Linked DNA regions of Homo sapiens: region 2 is linked to region 1. The links come from fine-mapping of genetic effects on gene expression. Tissue or cell type: monocytes after R848. Region 1 holds a variant in brackets; the other region holds the start of a gene. All regions are shown on one strand. Distances are from middle to middle.

Region 1 (10,416 bases):
ATTGCTTGTCAGTTTTGTTGAGGATCACATGGTTGTAGGTATATGCCTTTATTTCTGGGTTCTCTTACCTATTCCATTGATCTATGTGTCTTTTTTTATACCAGTACCATGCTGTTTTAGTTGCTGTAGCCTTGTAGTATGGTTTAAAGTTGGGTAGTGTGATACCTCAAACATTGCTCTTTTTGCTTAGGATTGCTTTTGCTATTTAGGTTGGGCTTTTCTGGTTCCAAATAAATTTCAGAATGTTTTCTTCTGATTCTGTGAAAAATGCCATTGGTAGTTTGATAGAAATAGCATTGGCTCTGTAAATTGCTTTGGGCAGTATTTTAACAATACTGATTCTTCCTATCCATGAGCATGAGATATTTTTCAATTTTTATTGTTTCTGATTTCTTTGTGCACTGCTTTGTAATTCTCATTGTAGAAATCTTTCACTTACCTGGTTGGCTGTATTCCTAGGTATTTTATACTTTTTGTGGCTACTGTGAATGGGATTCCATTCTTGATTTGGTTCATAGCTTGGACATTACTGGTGTATAGAAATGCAACTAATTTTTGTACACAGATTTTGTATCCTGAAACTTTTTTGAAGTTGTTTATCAGATCTAGGAGCCTTTGGGCAGAGACAACAGGTTTTCTAAATACAGAATTATATCTTCTGCAAGAGAAACTGACTTCCCCTCTTCCTATTTATATATGCCTTTCATATCTTTATCTTGCCTGATCACTAAGCTTAGGACTTCCAGTACTATGTTGAATCGGAGTGGTGAGAGTGGTCATCCCTGTCATTTTCCAGTTCTCAAGGGGAATGCTTCCAGCTTTTGCTTGTTCAGTATTAATTTGGCTGTGAGTCCAGCATAGATGGTTCTTATTGAAGTATGTTCCCTCAATGTGTAATTTGTTGAGGGTTTTTAAAATGAAGGGATGTTGAATTTTATTAAAAACCTTTCTGCATCTAAAGAGATGATCATGGTCATGTGGTTTTTGTTTTTAGTTCTGTGTATGTGATAAATCACATTTATTGATTTGTGTATACTGAACCAACCTTGCAGCCCAACACTAAAGCCTGCTTGATAATGTTGGATTAGCTTTTTGATGTGCAGATGGATTTGGTTTACTAGTATTTTGCTGAGGATTTTGGCACCTATATTCGTCAGGAGTACCAGCCTGAAGTTTTCTTTTTTCATTGTGCCTGTCAGGTTTTGGTATTAGAATGATGCTGGCCTCATAGAATCAGATAGGGAGGAGTCCCTCTGCATCCATGTTTTTGAACAGTTTCAGTAAGATTGGTAACAGCTTTTCTTTATACATCTCGTAGGCTTCAACTATAAATCTGTCTGGTCCAGAGTTTTGTTTGATAGATTTTTAATTAGTGATTAAATTTTGGAACTCATTATTGGTCTGTTCAGGGATGCAATTTCTTCTTGGTTCAATCTTGGGGGGTTATATCTTTCAAGGAATTTATTAATTTTTTCTAGGTTTTCTAGTTTGTGTGCATACAGGTGTTTATAGTAATCTTTGAGGGTTTTTCGTATTTCTGTGGGGTTGGTGGTAATGTCCCCTTTGTCATTTCTGATTGTGTTTTTTAGATCTCCTTTTGCAAGGTGTGAAATTTTTTTGAAGACTTTTCCACACATTTATTATAATTGTGAAGTCTCTCCAGTATAAATTCTCTAATGAGTTATTAGAAAAACTTGTGTTTGAAGACCTTGTCATATTCTTTACATTTGCAAAATTTCTTTGCAGTATGGAATAAAAGATGGGTAGTAAGGCTTGAGTGCACACTAAATTCTTTGACGCATTTGTTGCATTTGTAGTTTCTATCCCATATGAATTGTCCAATGTTGTGCTAGGTATGAAATGCGACTAAAGGCCTTGCCACACTCATTACATTTGTAAGGTTTCTCTCCAGTATGAATTTTCCGATGTCGTGCAAGGTGTGCAATTCGATTGAAGACCTTGCCACATTCATTACATTTGTAAGGTCTTTCTCCAGTATGGATTCTCTGATGATTGGTTAGTGATAACTTGTGTCTGAATGCCTTGCCACATTCACTACATTTGTAAGGCTTCTCTCCAGTGTGGATTACAAGATGGGCTGAAAGGCCTGAATACTCACTAAATGCTTTACCACATTCATTACATTTGTAAGGCTTCTCTCCAGTATGAATTCTTCGATGTCGTGCAAGATTTGAAAGTTGATTAAATACTTTTCCACATTCATTACATTTGTAAGGTTTCTCTCCTGTATGAATTCTCCAATGTTGTGCTAGGTGCGAATTTTGAATAAAGACCTTTCCACATTCATTACATTTGTAAGGTTTCTCTCCAGTATGAATTTTCTGATGTCGTACAAGGAGCGCAATCCTATAGAAGGCCTTGCCACATTCATCACATTTGTAAGGCTTCTCTCCAGTATAAATTCTCCAATGATTTGCTAGAGATGACTTATGACTGAAGCCTTTACCACATTCATTACATTTGTAAGGTTTCTCTTCAGCATGAATTCTTTGATGTCGTGCAAGGTAAGAATTATTACTGAAGACTTTACCACATTCATTACATTCATACGGCTTCTCTCTGGTATGAATTCTTTGATGTCGTGCAAAGTTTGAATTGTAACTAAAAACCTTGCCACAGACATTACATTTGTAAGGTTTCTCTCCAGTATGAATTCTACAATGTTCTGCAAGGTGTGAATTGCGACTAAAGACCTTGCCGCATGAATTACATTTGTAAGGTTTCTCTACAGTATGGATTACTTGATGTTTAGTAAGGCTGGAAGATACTCTAAAGACTTTGCTATGCTCATTACATTCATAAGGTTTTTCTCTAAGGTGTACTTTCTGTTCTTGTGGGAGAAATGAAGAATCATCAAAATCATTCCTATTAAAAATGGGGGTTTTGACACTGGAAGACATTTCTTGAAGACAGGAAACAGAGGAACTGTGGTTGATAAAGTTTTCAACTTGATTACATCCATTTATTACCCTTTCATCTGGAAATAGCTCCAGTTCAGACAGATGTAAGTGAAAGGATACTCCAAGTTGTTTTTTAATTGGTTTGTCTTCTGCATTGCTTCCCAATGCATAGCTGCTCCCTAGGAAAGCAAGAAAAAAGTAAAATTCAGACCCCATAATTCTGGCATGTTTAGAGTCTGATGAAAATACTAGAATCTGCCTCATCTGACTCAGACATTGGAAGAAATATCAGCACACTTTGTACATCACGCTGGTTGTGCTGAAAATAGAAAAGGGTAAGGTGATGCACTGGAGTTCTGGGAAATCTGTAGGAGTCAGGAGGATTACAGGTGAGTTTGAGAGGGATTATGAGTAGAGAGATAGAACAGGAATTGAAACCTTCTGAGAAAAAGAAGGGACAAGTCTCTAGGGAAAATAAGACACTCAAGAGAAGCAGTATACATAATAACAGTACATGCACAAAGCTAGGAAAGGCACATCCCCAGAAAAGGAGTGAGTGTTCCCACACCCTTTACAACAGGCTAATTAGAAAAGATCTCCCTCTGACCAAGTCTTATACAAAACAACTGAGAGAAGCAGTTATTTTACCAAACCTAATCCAAAAATTACAAGGCCTATGAAAGGAAAGAGAAATATGGCTAAAAAATAAATAAAGCCAAACCTAGAAAAAGACAGGCAGCTCTCTAAATTACTAGACAAATATTTATTTATTTATTTATTTAAGACAGGGTCTCACTCTATCGTCCAGGCTGGAGTGCAGTGGTATAGTGTAGCTCACTGCAGCATCTACTTCCCCAGCTCAAGCGATCTCTCCTGCTTCAGCCTCCTGAGTAGCTGGGTCTACAGGCATGCACCACCACATTCAGCAAGTTTTGGGGTTTTTTGTTATTTCTTTTGTTTGTTTTTAAGATGGAGTTTTGCTCTTGTTGCCCAGGCTGGAGTACAATGATGCAATCTCAGCTCACTGCAACCTCCACCTCCAGGTTCAAGCAATTATCCTGCCTCAGCCTCCCGAGTAACTGGGACTACAGGTGCCGGCCAACATGCTCAGCTAATTTTTGTATTTTTAGTGGAGATGGGGTTTTACCATGTTGGCCAGGCTGGTCTGGAACTCCTGACCATGATCCGGCCACCTCAGCCTCCGAAAGTGCTGGGATTACAGGCGTGAGCCACCACATCCAGCCTCAGCAAGTTTTTTCTGTGTTCTTTTAGAGACAAGGGCTCGTGATATTGCCTAGACTGGTCTCGAACTCCTTGGCTCAAGTGATCCTCCTGCCTTGGCCTCCCAAAGTGTTGGGATTACAGGCATGAGGCACTGCACCTGGCCCTTGACAAATATTTAAAGCAACTGCCTTAAGATTCTTAATGAGCTAAAAGATATCAAGGAGAGATAGACAACTAAATGAAATCAGAAAAACAATACATGAGAAGGAGGATATTAAACAAAGGAGGAAACAAAAAACATTCTGGAGCTGAAACACAATAAATAAAGTAAAAATTCATTAGGTGCTCAACAGCAGATGGATAGAGCACCAAAAAGAATGAGCAAACTTAAAGGTCAGTTATTCAAAAGTATCAGCTCCACCAGGCACAGTGGCTCACGCTTGTAATCCCAGCACTTTGGGAGGCCAAGGCAGGAGGATCACTAGGTCAGGAGTTTGAGACCAGCCTGACCAACATGGTGAAAGCCTGTCTCTACTAAAAATACAAAAATTAGATGGACATGGGGGCATGCACCTGTAATCCCAGCTACTCAGGAGGCTGTGGCAGGAGAATCGCTTGAACCTGGGAGGCAGAGATTGCAGTGAGCCAAGATGGAGCCATTACACTCCAGCCTGGGCTACAGAGCAAGACTCTAATTTAAAAAAAAAAAAAAAAAAAAAAAACACAGTATCAGCTACAAAGACCAAAAACAAAAAACAGAGAAGAAAAGCAAATAAACGCTAATACATTTTTCGGATGCTCTCAAGCACAACA[ACAT/T]ACAAATTATTAGAGGTTCACAAGGAGAAGACAGAGGATCAGAAATTGCAACTGAAGAAATAATGTCCAAATAATTGTCCAAATCCCAATTCTGAAGAAAGACCTGAATATACAATTCAAGAAGCTTGACCATTCAAATTAAAATGAACCCAAGGACATTCACACAGAGATACATTATAAGCAAATTATCAAACATCAAAGACAGAGGAAGAATTTTGACAGGAGCAACAAAAAAGATATTTGCCATTTAGAGGAAAAGGTATAAGACTATGTACTTTCTCCAGCGGAAACTTTGCCTGCCAGAAGGCAGTGAGATGACATATTGAAAGTGCTTAAAATCAACCAAGAATACTATATTTAGCAAAAGTCACCTGCAAAAATAAAGGAGAAATTTAGATTTTCCTCGATAAAGAAGAGCTAAGAAAGTTCATTACTACTCTAGACCTGTCCAACAAGAAATGCTACAGGGAGCCCTTCAAAATGAAATAAAAGGATTCCAGACAGTACTGGTAACCCAAATGAGAGGATAAAATTCTCCATTAAAGTAAAAAATGACCCAGGTGTGGTGGCTCACACCTGTAATCTCAGGGTTCTGGGAGGCCGAGGCGGGCAGATTGCTTGAGGTCAGGAGTTTGAGACCAGACTGACTAACGTGGTGAAACCCCATCTCTACTAAAAATACAAAAATTAGCCAGGCATGGTGGCACATGCCTGTAATCCCAGCTACTCGGGAGGCTGAGGCAGGAGAATCACTTGAACCCAGGAGGCAGAGGTTGCAGTGAGCCAAGATCTCACTGCTGCACTCCAGCTTGGATGACAGAGCGAGAATCCATCCCCCCATGCAAAAATGAAAAAAAAAGCAAGAATAGAGAAGCCAGAAACAAACCCTCAAATACTTGGTAGAATAATGTTCAATCAAAATGTCAAGACCATGTAACAAGGAAAGGACAGTCACTTCATCAAATAGTGCTGAAGAAAAAGGATGCCCACAAGCAAAGGAATGAGGCTGAACCCTTACTTTACACCCCATGCAAAAATTAACTTAAAGTCTATTCATGACCTAAAACGATAAAACTCCTAGAAAAAACCATAGGTAAAAAGCTTCATGAGATTGGATTCAACATTTCCCCAGATATAAAATTGATAGTACAGGAAAGAAGGTAAATATACACACGATGCACTATGACAAAATTGAGAACTATTGTGGATAGAAGAAAACAATTACCACAATGTAAAGAAAACCTACCATATGTGAGAAAATATTTGCATATCATATCTGTGATAAAAACTTAATATCTAAAATATATATAGGCCGGATGTGGTGGCTCATGCCTGTAATCCCAGCACTTTGAGAGGCTGCAGCAGGTAGATCACCTGAGGTCAGGAGTTCAAGACCAGCCTGGCCAACATAGTGAAACCCCATCTCTATTAAAGATACAAAAATTTAGCCAGGCATGGTGGTGTGCACCTGTAATCCCAACTACTTGGGAGGCTGAGGTGGGAGAATTGCTTGAACCTGGGAGGCGCAGGTACCAGTGAGCCGAGATCACGCCACTGCATCCAGCCTGGGTGACAGAGCAAGACTCCGTCTCAAAAAATAAATAAATAATTATTTAAAATAATAAAATAAAAATATATAAATAAGTCCTACAAAGCAAAACAAATAACGAATTAAGAAATGTGGAAAGAAATACACATTTTTCCAAAGGTGATATACGACCATATAAGAAAATGCAAAATATCACAAATCATTAGAGAGAAATGCAAATAGAAAACTGAATATTTTTCCTCACACCAATAAAGAATATCACCTCACACCCATATAGAATACGTTTTGTCAAGAAAAGGGAAAAAAATGAAACACCAGAAAATCACAAGTGTTGTCGAAAATATGGAGAAATAGGAGAATTTTGTGCCACTGTTGGTGGAAAATTGAAATGGTGCAGTCACTATGGAAACAAGTATGACATTTTCTCAAAGAATCCAAAATCAAATGATCAGTATAGGCAACAATTCCACATCTGGGTATAAAGATAAAAAAGAAAAAGGCCAGGCGCACTGGCTCACACCCTTAATGTTACTACTTTGGGAGGCCTAGGCAGGCAGATCACCTGAGGTGAGGAGTTCGAGACCAGCCTAGTCAACATGGTGAAACCCTGTCTCTACTAATAATACAAAAATTAGCTGGGCGTGGTGGCACACACCTGTAATCCCAGCTGCTCAGGAGGCTGAGGCAGGAGAACTGCTTGAACCCAGGAGGTGGAGGTTGCAGTTAGCCGAGATTGCACCATTGCACTCCAGCCTGGGCAACAAAAGCGAAACTCCATCTCAAACAAACAAATGAAAAATAAAATGAAAGTAAACACAGCATCTTGAAGAGATACTTAAAAACCCATGGTCAAGGCCAGGCACGATAGCTCACGCCTATAATCCCAGCACTTTGGGAGGCTGAGGCAGGTAGATCATGAGGTCAGGAGTTCAAGACGAGCCTGGCCAATATGGTGAAACCCTGTCTCTACTAAAAATACAAAAACTAGCTGGGTATGGTGGTGTGCACCTGTAGTCCTAGCTGTTTGGGAGGCTGAGGCAGGAGAATCGCTTGAACCCAGAGGGTGGAGGTTGCAGTGAGCCAAGATCACGCCACTGCACTTCAGCCTGGGCGAGACAGTGAGACACTGTCTCAAAAAACAACAACAACAAAAACCCATGTTCATAGCAGCATTATTCAAAAATAATAAAAAGGTGGGCGCAATGCAGGTGTCCACCAATGGATGAATAGTTAAACAAACTGTGGTACAGACAAATAGAAGAATATTATTCAGTCCTAAAAGAATATACAAATTTCTTGATGTGCTACAAAATAGATGAACCTGAAAGACACTACGCTAAGTGAGATAAGCCAGTCATAAAAAGACAAATACTGTGTGATTCCATTTGAGTATCCAAAATACTGAAATTCACACAAACAGACAAGAAAGCGGGAGGGGAGACAGTGAAATTGTCGGGGGAATTAGTTAAATATTCCTGGTAAATCAATTAAATCTAAATTCGAAATAAAAAAATAAGACTAGGCATCATGGCTCATGCCGGTAATCAGAGTACTTATGGAGGCTGAGGCAGGAGGATTGCTTAAGCCTAGGGGTTCAAAATCAACATAGCAAGACCCCTGTATCTGAAAAACAAAAAGAAGCTGGGCGCGGTAGCTCATGCCTGTAATTCTAGCACTTTGGGAGGCAGAGGCAGATAGATCACTTAAGGTCAGGAGTTCGAGACCAGCCTGGCCAACATAGTGAAACCCTGTCTTAACTGAAAATACAAACAAAAATTAGCCAGGCATGGTGCAGGTGACCATAATCATAGATACCTGGAAGGCTGAGGTAGCAGAATCCCTTGAACCCGGGAGGCAGAGGTTGCAATGAACTGAGATAGCGCCACTGCACTTCAGCCCGGGCAATAGAGCAAAATTCCATCTCAAATAAAGGAAAGGAAGAAAGGAAGAAAGAAAGAAAGAAAGAAAGAAAGAGAAAGAGAGAGAGAGAAAGAAAGATCTCCAGTCAAATAAACAAAAAAATTATTTATTTATTTGAAACTGAGTCTCGCTCTGTCTCTCAGGCTCTGTTTCATGACAGTGAAACTCCATCTCAAAAACAAAACAAACAAAAATACAAACATAAAAAACCAAAACTAGACAAAACAAAACAAAAAAAAAGCCCAAACAACAGCATGGCTTCCACCATGCCCATCTGAGCTCTTACCTGTGTTCACACCTTTGATGCACTCCCTCCCATCTGAATTTTTTGCTATTTTCACTTCACTCTCACCAGACCAGGGCTCCCTCCTTTGCTCCAACATGGAGTTAATATTCAGGTCAGGAAGAGAGATTCCTGTTTGTAAAAAAAAAAATCAAAATGTGCTGTAGCATCTCCAAAATCCAAGCCCTATGTGTAGGAAGGAGACAGGATATCACAAATGAATCAAGAATAATATTTCACAAATTCATCCATAGACTGCCTCCTTCTGAATGCTTAGGGAATATTATAACATGCAGACATCAAGCCCCTTTCCAAGAACTACTGAGTATAAAGCACAGGAGTAGAGGCTGGGCGTGGTGGCTCACACCTGTAATCCCAGCACTTTGGGAGGCCGAGACGGGTGGATCACCTGAGGTCGGGAGTTCGAGATCAGCCTGACCAACACAGAGAAACTCGGTCTCTACTAAAAATACAAAAAAAAAATTAGCCAAGCATGGTGGCACATGCCTCTAATCCCAGCTACTCGAGCAGTTAAGGCAGGAGAATCATTTGACCCCAGGAGGCGGAGGTTGCAGTGAGCCAAGATCGCGCCATTGCACTCCAGCCTCCAAGAGTGAAACACTCTGTCTCAAAAAAAAAAAACAAAACATAAAACAAAGCACAGGAGTAGAAAACAGGGAAGTGGGTATCTGAAAAGTTTGCCATAAGGTTTTATGCAGCTGGGTGCGGGGGCTCATGCCTGTAATCCCAGCACTTCGGGAGGCTGAGGCAAGTGGATTGCTTGAGCCCAGGACTTTGAGACCAGCCTGGCCAACATTGTAAAAATGAAATATAGAAAAATTAGCCAGGTGTGGTGGCACGTGCCTGTAATCCCAGTTACTAGGGAGGCTAAGGCGAATTGCTTAAGCCTGGGAGGCAGAGGCTGCAGTAAGCCAAGATCACGTGCCCTCCAGCCAGGGCAACAGAGCAAGACTCAATCTCAAAAACAAACAAAAAAGGTTTTATGCATACTTCCGCCCTGGTACCACCCAATGATGTATAATGAAGGGGACAGAACATCTGAAGAAAAAGGACATTTCAACTCCAGAAAACACTATGGAGCTTTTCATTTCTGAGTCAACAAGGTTTTTAGTTTTTTGTTTGTTTGTTTGTTTTTTTAATGAGACGGAGTTTCACTCTTGTTACCCAGGCTGGAGTGCAATGGTGCATTCTCGGCTCACTGCAACCTTCACCTCCCGGGTTCAAGAGATTCTCCTGACTCAGCCTTCCAAGTAGCTGGGATTACAGGCTCCCACCACCATGCCCGGCTAATTTTTGTATTTTTAGTAGAGATGGGGTTTCACCATGTTGGCCAGGCTGGTCTCAAACTCCTGACCTCAAGTGATCCTCCTGCCTTGGCCTCCCAAAGTGCTGGGATTACAGGTGTGAGCCACGGATCCCAGCCTGAGTCAATAAGGGTTTTTTTGGTTTTTTTTTTTTTTTTTTTTTTTTTGGGACGGAGTTTCACTCTGTTGGCAGGCTGGCAATGACGTGATCTCGGCTCACCAAAACCTCTGCCTCCCAGGTTCAAGTGATTCTCCTGCTTAATGTCAGTCAAACAATGCAGGGGCTCCCAGGAGGCACACAAGGGAAAATGCTGAAATAACCAAGGGCAGATCCCGGCTTCTGCAGGGGCATGATCCTCACCCAGGGAGACCAGGTTC
Region 2 (9,690 bases), 22 kb after region 1:
TCTCCTTCTGTGCATACATTACTGAAATTCTTCAAAAGAGTTTGAGGTACTCTCGGTGTTTCATTGCCACTTTAATTTTAATCATTATGGGATTGATTGCTGTCACAGCTACTGCCACGGTAGCTGGAGTTACTTTGCATTCCACAGTACAAAGAGCAGACTACGTAAATAATTGGCAGAAAAATTCTACTTTGCAGTGGAATTCCCAAACTAACACAGACTGAAAACTAGCTAATCAAATCAATGATCTCCGATAAACTGTAATGCGGCTAGGAGATCAAGTAGTTAGTCTAGAATATAGAATGCAGATACAATGTGATTGGAATACTTCTGATTTTTGCATTACTCCTCATCTGTATAATGAAACAGAGCATGAGTAGGAAAGAGTTAAGAGACATTTAAAGGGTCATACTGGAAATTTATCTTTAGATATTACAAAACTGAAGGAACAAGTATTCCAAGCCTCTCAGGCACATCTGATGCTAATGCCAGGAACTAAAGAGCTTGAAGGAGCTGCAGACAGATTAGCAGCTATTAACCCGTTAAAATGGATCAAGACAATTGGAGGCTCCCTGATTTCAATGATGATTGTGCTTTTAATCTGTGTTGTTTGTCTTTGTGTAGCATGCAGATCCAAATCCCGAATCCCGAATCCTGTGAGAAGTAGCCCACCGTGACAAAGCAGCCTTTGCCTTTGTCACTTTGCAAAAACAGAAAGGGGAACATGCTGGCAACAGGCTTTAAAGAAATTGGCCATAAGCAGGATTTTTGCAGCAATGAAACGTGCTTGTGATGGCTATGACACACACTGCTAGAAGCTGTTGGCTTACTGGAGCAGGACAAGGAACACCTGGCCTGCCCGGAGTGGAAAACTGCTCAAACCACAAACAATAGCATGAGTGGCCTGTGCCTTAACACGTTTTTGCTGCAGATAATTAGCCAAAGACTGTTTCTCTACTCCTTGCTAAGAATGTTTTGTTTCCCATAAGGAATGCTTTTAGTTAATCTATAATCTATAGAAACAATGCTTATCAATGGCTTGCTGTCAATAAATATGTGGGTCAAACCCTGTTCGCAGCTCTCAGCTCTGAAGGCTGTTGGCCCCTGATCCCACTTTACACTCTATTCTTGTGTCTGTGTCTTTAATTCCTCTAGTGCCACTAGGTTAGGGTCCCCACGACCAAGCTGGTCTCGGCACTGAGGGAAGGCATAGGTAAGCGTGAGCAAACCTGTCAGGCAGGACACTTCAGACTCAGAGAAGACTCCCAACTCGAAGGCCCAGCGTTTCTGAAAGAAAGGAGACAGAACAATCCACCGAGAATATCATCTCACCTGAGGAAGAGCCATCCCTGACTCCTTTGCTTTCCTCTTCCTTCTCTTCTGGGCTTTTTCATCACACAGCATGACTCTTTAGAAGTCAATCCTAAATGTCAAAAATATGCTGTTTAGGGCTTAGAATCAACACACCCTTTTCCTGTGCCACAATCACACACACAGGTTAGACCTCACCCTGCGGAAAGATGTCCTCTGCTGCCCACTGCACCAGAGTTGATGCAGAGACAAGAAACTCCTACAGGAAGAACAACAAGTGAGTTTTTTACTCGTCTTCAGAACCTGCTCCCCTCCTAGAGATGCCCACACGCACGCTGCAGCAGTGGGGAGCTGGCCTGGTCTAAGCTCCCCTTCAGGGCCAGACCCAGCCCTGACCAAACCCCATGCAGAGCACAGCCCCTCCTCTCCTCTCTATGGATCCCAGGCTCATGTAATCCCTCAGAAATGGAGGACACAGAGCCTTGGTGCTCAGCACCAGAGACAGAACACACTGGAATCCCCGTATCCATGGGGAAGATGTCCCAAGACCCCCATTGGATGCCTGGAACTTCAAACAGTACTGAACTCCATTTATTCCACCCTGGCCAACATTGTGAAACCTCGTCTCTACTAAAAATACAAAAATTAGCTGGGCGTGGTGGCACACACCTATAATCCCAGCTACTTGGGAGGCTGAGGCAGGAGAAATGCTTGAAACTGGGAGATGGATGTTGCAGTGAGCTGAGATCATGCCATTGCACTCCAGCCTGGGCAACAAGAGTGAAACTCTGTCTCAAAACAAAACAAAAGAAAAAAAAAATCAGGGTATCCCAAAGCCCCTTCTTTTGATTAATTTGCTAGGAGGGTTCTTCCATCGGGCTAGTCATCTGTATCTTTTGCAATATTCTTCATAGCAAATGGGTAAAACTAAGCAAAATGCTTCCTTGAGTTCTGTGAATGAGGCTAACAAATTAATAAAATCTGAGCAAAGGGTCAAGGGAATCTTCAATTTTTAGATGTTTGGTTGAAGTTCAGGTCCCAACCAGGAACTTACAACCAGCACGTGAAGTAGCGGCAGCCTTGTGGAACTGAGCCCCCAACCTGTGGGATCTGATGCTAACTTCAAGTAGACAGTGTCAACTTGACTGAAATTACGGATCACCCAGGCGGTGTCTGACGAATTGCTTGTTGGTGGGAAGAAATCCCCACACATTTTGTTCATCAGATATGAAGCATTCTGTGTTGAGTGTTCACTATTGTGTTGACTGCAAGAGTAGGAAAAACACTTTGGTTTTCCTGCTATCTTTTACACTCGCCCACACCCTACCCCATCCCAGGAAAAGGAAAGTGGGTGACCCACACCTGAATGACTCAAGTCACTGACCTGTGCCTGAATAGGGAATGTGAGTGGAAGCTAAAGTCTGATGCCAAGAATTATAAAATGCACCAGCCTTACAGACAGGAGTTTTGCATATCCATTTTCATCTGTATTTTTAAAGTATATTTCATATTATCAAATTATAAATAGATAAATCAATGTCACAACTTAATCATAATATCCAATCAACTCACCGTTCATCTGCACCCAGGGTTCCCTCTTTTCTGGGTACTGTGTTTCCCTCCCTCATTCTGTACGTATCTCTCATTCTCACCTTCTTTCTCTAGCTTTTTTCCCCCTTTATTTTTCCCCTAAGATTCTGCTCATTTTGAGCCCCTCTCTTCTCCTGATGTTTCTCCCCTTCTTCCTTCTATTCCTTCTCTTCCACCTGTTCTGCTCCATTCTGGCAACTTGTTTCACCCCTCTTCCAAACTTTCTGCTCAATCTTTGATCATCCCATTCTCCACCTATTTGTCTCTTTTTTTTTTTTTTCCCTGAGACGGAGTTTTGCTCTTGTCGCCCAGCCTGGAGTGCAATGGCGCAATCTCAGCTCACTGCAACCTCCGCCTCCCGGGTTCAAGCAATTCTCCTGCCTCAGCCTCCTGAGTAGCTGGGATTACACGCGCGCGCTGACGCCCGGCTAATTTTTGCATTTTTAGTAGAGATGGGGTTTCACCATGTTGCCCACGCTGGTCTCAAACTCCTGACCTCACGTGATCCACCCACCTTGGCCTCCCAAAGTGCTGGGATTACAGGCGTGAGCCACTGTGCCCGGTCTTGCCTCTTCCCCTGACTCTACTCCCCCTCTGCTCTCTCTGTTAAATCCCTTCTTTTCTGTTACACCCCCTTGTCCCCACTCTCTGGCACCCTGAGATCCCAGGCCTCCACCTGCTGTGGTTCTCCCTCTGCTCTCGTTGTCACCAGCTGACTCCTCTTGCTGTCCCAGCACCACGCTGCTCTGTCTGCCCTGGCTCCAAATCCCTCCCCCTCTCCCCCACTCTCAAACTGAGGAACTTCCCACTTTGCTGCCCCTCTCACTATCTTGCTGTCCTTCATCTCTCCGGAGATGGAACTTTTCTCTGCATTTCTCCAGTTGCTTTTTTCCCCCTGCTACTTTCTCGGCTTCATTCGCTGTCTCTGCAAATCCTCCATCCACTCTCTACTTTGCCATCTGCTTACGGCTCTCCCTCAATCTTCTTTTCTCCTTCAAAATTTTTCTCTTTCTTCTCCCTCGCTCTCCGTCTCTCTTTCTGCACACATTCACATGGAAGGAATTGGGATCCGATGTCCACAAGCAGAACACCTTTTCAGTGGGGTGTTATTTGGCCCGCAAGAACACTGGATGTCAAGAGACAGAGTAAGTCACCTCCCCACACGCAGGGTTAGGAGAAGCGGTGTCTGGGAAGAGGAGGCCTGGGGAGTAGCGGGGCCCCGTATCAAGGAGGGTAAAGGTAGGGTCTGGATCAAGAGATGGGTGGCGTCTGCAGAATCCCAGCACTGGGCAGAAGACGCGGCTTCTCCTGGATTGAGATTGGAGCGCTGTGCTCCAGGGCCAACAAAGGCGAGGCTTGGGGGACCGCATAGACCGGAATCCGCCTAGCGGGGGAGGACTTTACGCTGTGCGGGGCGGATGTAAGCATCACTGAAGGACTTGAAACAGGAAAACTCCGCGACAGGAGGTGACTACATGGCCCTGTGGCAGAAGGACGGGGGACAGGACCCGCCGCCGAGCGATTTAAACACACAGGGAAGCGACCGCCTGACTCTCACGGAGACGCCTGAATTTGGTCGGGGTAGAGGGAGCGGTGCGAGGATTTCAAGGTCTGTGTGGCCCCTCAGATCCCGGGTACAGAAGCGCGGGGGAGTTGGGAAGCGCAGATTAATTTACACAAAGGGAAACTCACGCGCCGCGGCGTGACCTTCACTCCACGCGATCCGCTTCCGGGTTTGTGGGAAACTGCGCGCGCAGCGGAGGGGTCCGAGCGGGGCGGGGGCGGGGGCGGGGGCGGGGGCGGGGGCGGGGGCGGGGGCGGGGGCGGGGGCGGGGGCGGGGGCGGGGGCGGGGGCGGGGGCGGGGCGGAGTGGGGCTTGCGCTTCCCTCCGCCTCGCTTCCAGTGCCTCTGTTTTCCGGGTTTTGCCGGGGAGACCTGTCAAGGAGACTGGAGCAACTCAGCTGTCTCGGAACTGTACTCTTGCCGGGACTGAGCAAAGTCGGCTAATGATTAGATCCAGGAAAATTCCTGCTATTAAAGTTAATCTTAAGCCGACCGTGCGGTCGGGCACCTGTAGTCCCGGCTACCCCGAAGACTGAGGCGGGAGGATCGCTTGAGCCCAGGAGTTCGAGTTTACACTGAGTTATGACGGCCACTGCACTCCAGCTTGGGCGACAGAGACTCAGTCTCTCAAATAAATACATAAAAAACTAAATTTAGCAATTTAATTAAGCCCTGGGATTGTCTGTGAAAGCGACGCAAGTTAATACATGAACTGCAAAGCCCTGCCTGGGCAGAATGTGCAATTTCATGCTGACGGCCCACAAAGCAGAATAGAAATCCTCTCCTTTTCTATTCCCTGTTCTTTCGGGAGGGACAGAGGTAACCCTGTGCTCAGCTCCAGAGAGTTTTCTAGTGACAGCACCAGGGGCATGGAGGGCTAAGGCCAGTGAGAATTTAGGTCACCAATTGTTGGTTTTAAAAAAGCATTAACCGGGCGAGGTGGCTCACACCTGTAATCCCAGCACTTTGGGAGGTCAAGGCAGGTGGATCATTTGAGGTCAGGAGTTCGAGACCAGCCTGGCCAACACGGTAAAACCCCATCTCTACTAAAAATACAAAAATTAGCTGGGCATGGTGGCATACGCGTGTAATCCCAGCTACTCAGGAAGCTGAGGCAGGAGAATCGCTTGAACCTGGGAGGCGGAGGTTGCAGTGAGCTGAGATTGTGCCACTGCACTCCAGACCAGGCAACAGAACAAGACTCTGTCTCAAAAAAAAAAAAAAAAAGTCAAAAAATATGTTAATTTAACATTCTCAGGATTTTAAAACTACAAAATGCTGATGAAAGAAATCAAAGACACCCAGATAGAGACATATACAATATCAATTTATTGATAAACTCAACATAGAAAAAAATGTGAAATTACCCCAAATTGATACACAGGGTTAATATATTTACTATCAAGGCACTTCGTAGATACTGACAAGATTATCCAAACAATTATGTAGAAAAGCAAAAAACAAAACAAACCAACAGAAATCCCAAAAAACCTGGAATAGCTCAAACATCTGAAAAAAAAGATAGAGCAGCATGCTCCCGGGAGGTGAAGGTTGCAGTGAGCTGAGATCACTCCATTGCACTCCAGCTTAGGCAACAAGAGTGAAACTCCATCTCAAAAAAATAAATAATAAAATAAATAAATAAAATAAAGATAAAGGGTTGGAATCACTTCACGTTACTTCAAGTCCTCTAATATAGTGAAAGCATTTTTTCCTTTTTCATATTTACAATAAAACGTTTATACCTGCCATTGTCTTGTGCATACTCTTGTCAAAAAATATTGTCTCCAAACAACAGTCTCATTTTTGTGTCCCCTAAAATTTTCACTAGAGTGACATTCGGAAAAAATGTATTAAGCATAGCATCTGGCCGGGCATGGTGGCTCATGCCTGTAATCCCAACACTTTGGGAGGCCGAAGCGGGTGGATCACCTGAAGTCAGGAGTTCAAGACCATGCCTGGCCAACATGGTGAAACCCCATCTCTATTACAAATACAAAAATTAGCCAGGTGTGGTGATGGTGCATGTCTGTAATCCCAGCTATTCGGGAGGCCGAGGCAGGAGAATCACTTGAGCCTGGGAGGCGGAGGCTGCAATGAGCCAAGATCACACCGCTGCACTCCAGCCTGGGTGACAGAGCAAGACTCTGTCTCAAAAAAAAAAACAAACAAGCATAGCATCTGGATGCAATGTACAGAAAAAGAAAAAAGTAAAAAAAAAATATTATATATGTGTCTATACGTGCATATATAAACACAAAATATAATTTTATTAGAGTTGAAAATGAACCATGGAATATATTGCTTGATGCTGTAACGGGAAAATGACATTTCCATAGCTTTTGGAAAAATGCTCTTCTAGTAATATCATATTTATAACAAATATATTTTAATCATATTATATAATACATTATATTTATTATAAACCCACACACTAATTTTCATTGTCTACTATAAAAAGTATCTTAGGCAATTTTACTAAAAAAATTTCACAAGTGTTTTCAACAATCATATTGTGCAATGAGACCTGTATCTGTAACTATAAAAGGAACGTAAGATATTATCATGAAGAAAATCAGAGTCTTTCCTAACCAAGATGGCAGGAGCTTCCAGAGGAAGCTAGAGTTGTCCTAGAGTTGACTGCATTTTGTGATGTCTGAACACCAACGCCTTTTACACCTCTGCACTCCCTCTTCCTATTCTGCCCATCTGGTCAACTGAAAAATCCTCAGTGCCCACTCCTTTGGCACCAGCTGAAAGTTCAAACCACAAGTGGGCACCCCTGCCCAAGCCCTATCCCTTAACAATCATCATACCCCAAGCCAGTCACCTATGCCGATTCCCTAGTCATATTTGGACCAACCGGGGAAGTCTACCCTGCTCTCCCCAGAAAGCCTCATTATGGAGTAAACATTTTGAGATCACATTAGTGAATGGCATCATCATTCTCAATACCCAAACCAAACTTCAGGTGGATGTCAAAGCAGTTCCAGAAGAATGATCAAAAGTTCAAATTACCAAAAAGGTTATAAGGGTGAAAATGTGAAGTTTCTAGTTAATCTACCAAAGCAAAACGAAATTCCCAATCTGTGTGTTCATCCTCAAGAGAACATTTCTGAACATTAATATTTTTTCAAATTATGTCACTGAGCGCTACGAGGTCAACAGCAAGATTGTTACAATATTTTCATCCTGAAGTCCACACTTTGTCCTATTTTCCATATTACTGTATCTGTATTTTCGCTTCCTGAAAATGAAGGTGCCTGCCATGGGTCTTACTTGGCACACAAGAAAAAGGCACACAGAAACATAATACAGTGCATGTTTATCAACAGTGATGAACATTGAGGGCATATGATGATGAAGCTGCACTGTTATGTGATTTTCACTTTACCCACAAAAGCATCTTAGGGCAGAGTAGAGAGGTAGGCCAAGTGTGGTGGCTCATGCCTATAATCCCAGCACTTTGGGAGGCCGAGGTGGGCAGATCACCTGAGGTCAGGAGTTCGAGACCAGCCTCACCAATATGGAGAAACCCTGTCTCTACTAAAAAAACAAAATTAGCTGGGCATGGTGGCACATGCATGTAATCCCAGCTACTCGGGAGGCTGAGGCAGGAGAATCACTTGAACCTGGAAGGCGGAGGTTGCGGTGAGCCGAGATCACACCATTGCACTCCAGCCTGGGAAACAAGAGCGAAACTCCATCTCAAAACAAAACAAAACAAACAAAAAACAAAAACAAAGAGTAGAGAGAATAACTTAAGTACTAAGTATTATTACCCAAAATCATACTTACCCAAGTGTATATACCCAAAAGTGCATGTCATTTCATTTCACACACAAAATTGTTGTGGATGCTTCAACCTTAAAAATCCTGGCCAGGCGCCGTGGCTCATGCCTGTAATCTTAGCACTTCGGGAACCCGAGGTGGCTGGATCACCCGAGGTCAGGACTTCGAGACCGGCCTGGCCAACATGGTGAAACCCCATCTCTACTAAAAATACAAAAAAATTAGCCGGGTATGGTGGTGCATGCCTGTAATCCAGCTACTTGGGAGGTGTAGACAGGAGAATCACTTGAACCCGGGAGGCAGAGGATGCAGTGAGCCAAGATCGTGCCATTGCACTTCAGCCTGAGTGACAGAGCAAAACTTCATCTCAAAAAAAAAAAAAAAAAAGGAATACTATGCAGCCATAAAAAGGATGAGTTCATGTCCTTTGCAGGGACATTGATGAAGCTGGAAACCATCATTCTCAGCAAACTATCACAGTGACAGAAGACCAAACACCCCATGTTCTCACTCATAGGTGGGAATTGATCAATGAGAACACCTGGACACAAGGCGGGTAACATCACACACCGGGGCCTGTCGGGGGGTGGGGGGCTGGCAGAGGGATAACATTAGGAGAAATATCTAACGTAAATGACAAGTTGATGGGTGCAGCAAACGAATATGGCACATGTATACCTATGTAACAAACCTGCATGTTGTGGACATGTACACTAGAACTTTAATTTTAAAAATAAATTAATTTAAAAATCCTAATGGTGCCTTATTATTGTCTGCTATAAAGTATCCTCCTGAGACGAGATAAAACAATATTGGTAGAAAGAAGGTAAATCATTCACACTTTGGAAAATTTCAACTTTATTGTTCCAAACATGAGAAAATCCAACAGTTGCAAATTATGCCAGCAGTTAAATGTGAATCCTACTCAAGAACATGTTCCACTGGTAGTTTTGATTAAACTCTCTACTCTGATTTAACTGTTCTCTCTTCCATTTGAAAAATCAGAGTACTTTTTAATCAGTCTTTGCTAAACAGCAGCTATTGCTATTCAATGGAGACGGTGGCCACCATTTCCCCTGCATCGTCTCTCCTACGTAATCAGTCCCTGATGAACTCTCTTCCCATAAAAATCCCTGTGTCCTAAAGTCATGGCGTGCTCTATTTCATGGTCATTTGTAGAGCACAGCAGCACTGTGCCTGTCAGGAAAAGTGTGTGCTAACTGCAATAAGCATGATGACTGCCATCACGGTTTTGTTATTCTCTGTCCACCTCCATGGTCTCTAAATCAGACAATCTTTAATCTGAAAAGGCAGTGTCCTTATTCCTCCAGGAAACTGGATAGAAACGCTCCTCATCTAATGAAGTCAGCCCTGTCATCTTACTGATTCTTTCCCAGACCACAGTGAAAGGCCTGTAGGGAAGGCACATGAAGA

Which allele goes with the higher level. Positions count from the first base shown, and alleles are read on the strand shown. Sizes are in standard deviations (SD) of each study's normalised expression.
For the expression in monocytes after R848 of the gene that starts at base 4,648 in region 2, allele ACAT in region 1 goes with a lower level than allele T (large effect, 1.4 SD a copy in Quach 2016).

Evidence for each region. PIP is the estimated chance that this variant, and not a neighbour inherited with it, causes the effect.
Region 2: ZNF480 starts here. The variant in region 1 is fine-mapped to the expression of ZNF480 in monocytes after R848 (Quach 2016, PIP 0.95).

What each region holds. Positions count from the first base shown.
Region 1 is chr19:52,314,263-52,324,678 of GRCh38, reverse strand. ZNF480 (zinc finger protein 480) reads right to left here. Exons shown (of 5, transcript NM_144684.4): 3 at 10,400-10,416; 4 at 8,717-8,845; 5 at 1-3,100. The coding sequence ends at 1,821. Among named protein-coding and RNA genes, the nearest start is that of ZNF610, 17 kb to the left of the region's middle. The variant ACAT/T (reference allele first, on the strand shown) is at 4,959.
Region 2 is chr19:52,292,127-52,301,816 of GRCh38, reverse strand. It overlaps ZNF480 (zinc finger protein 480), which reads right to left and starts at 4,648. Exons shown (of 5, transcript NM_144684.4): 1 at 4,594-4,648; 2 at 1,333-1,423. The coding sequence starts at 1,404. ZNF766 (zinc finger protein 766) reads right to left here. Exons shown (of 4, transcript NM_001010851.3): 4 at 5,771-9,690. RefSeq lists enhancers at 4,417-4,466, 4,537-4,586.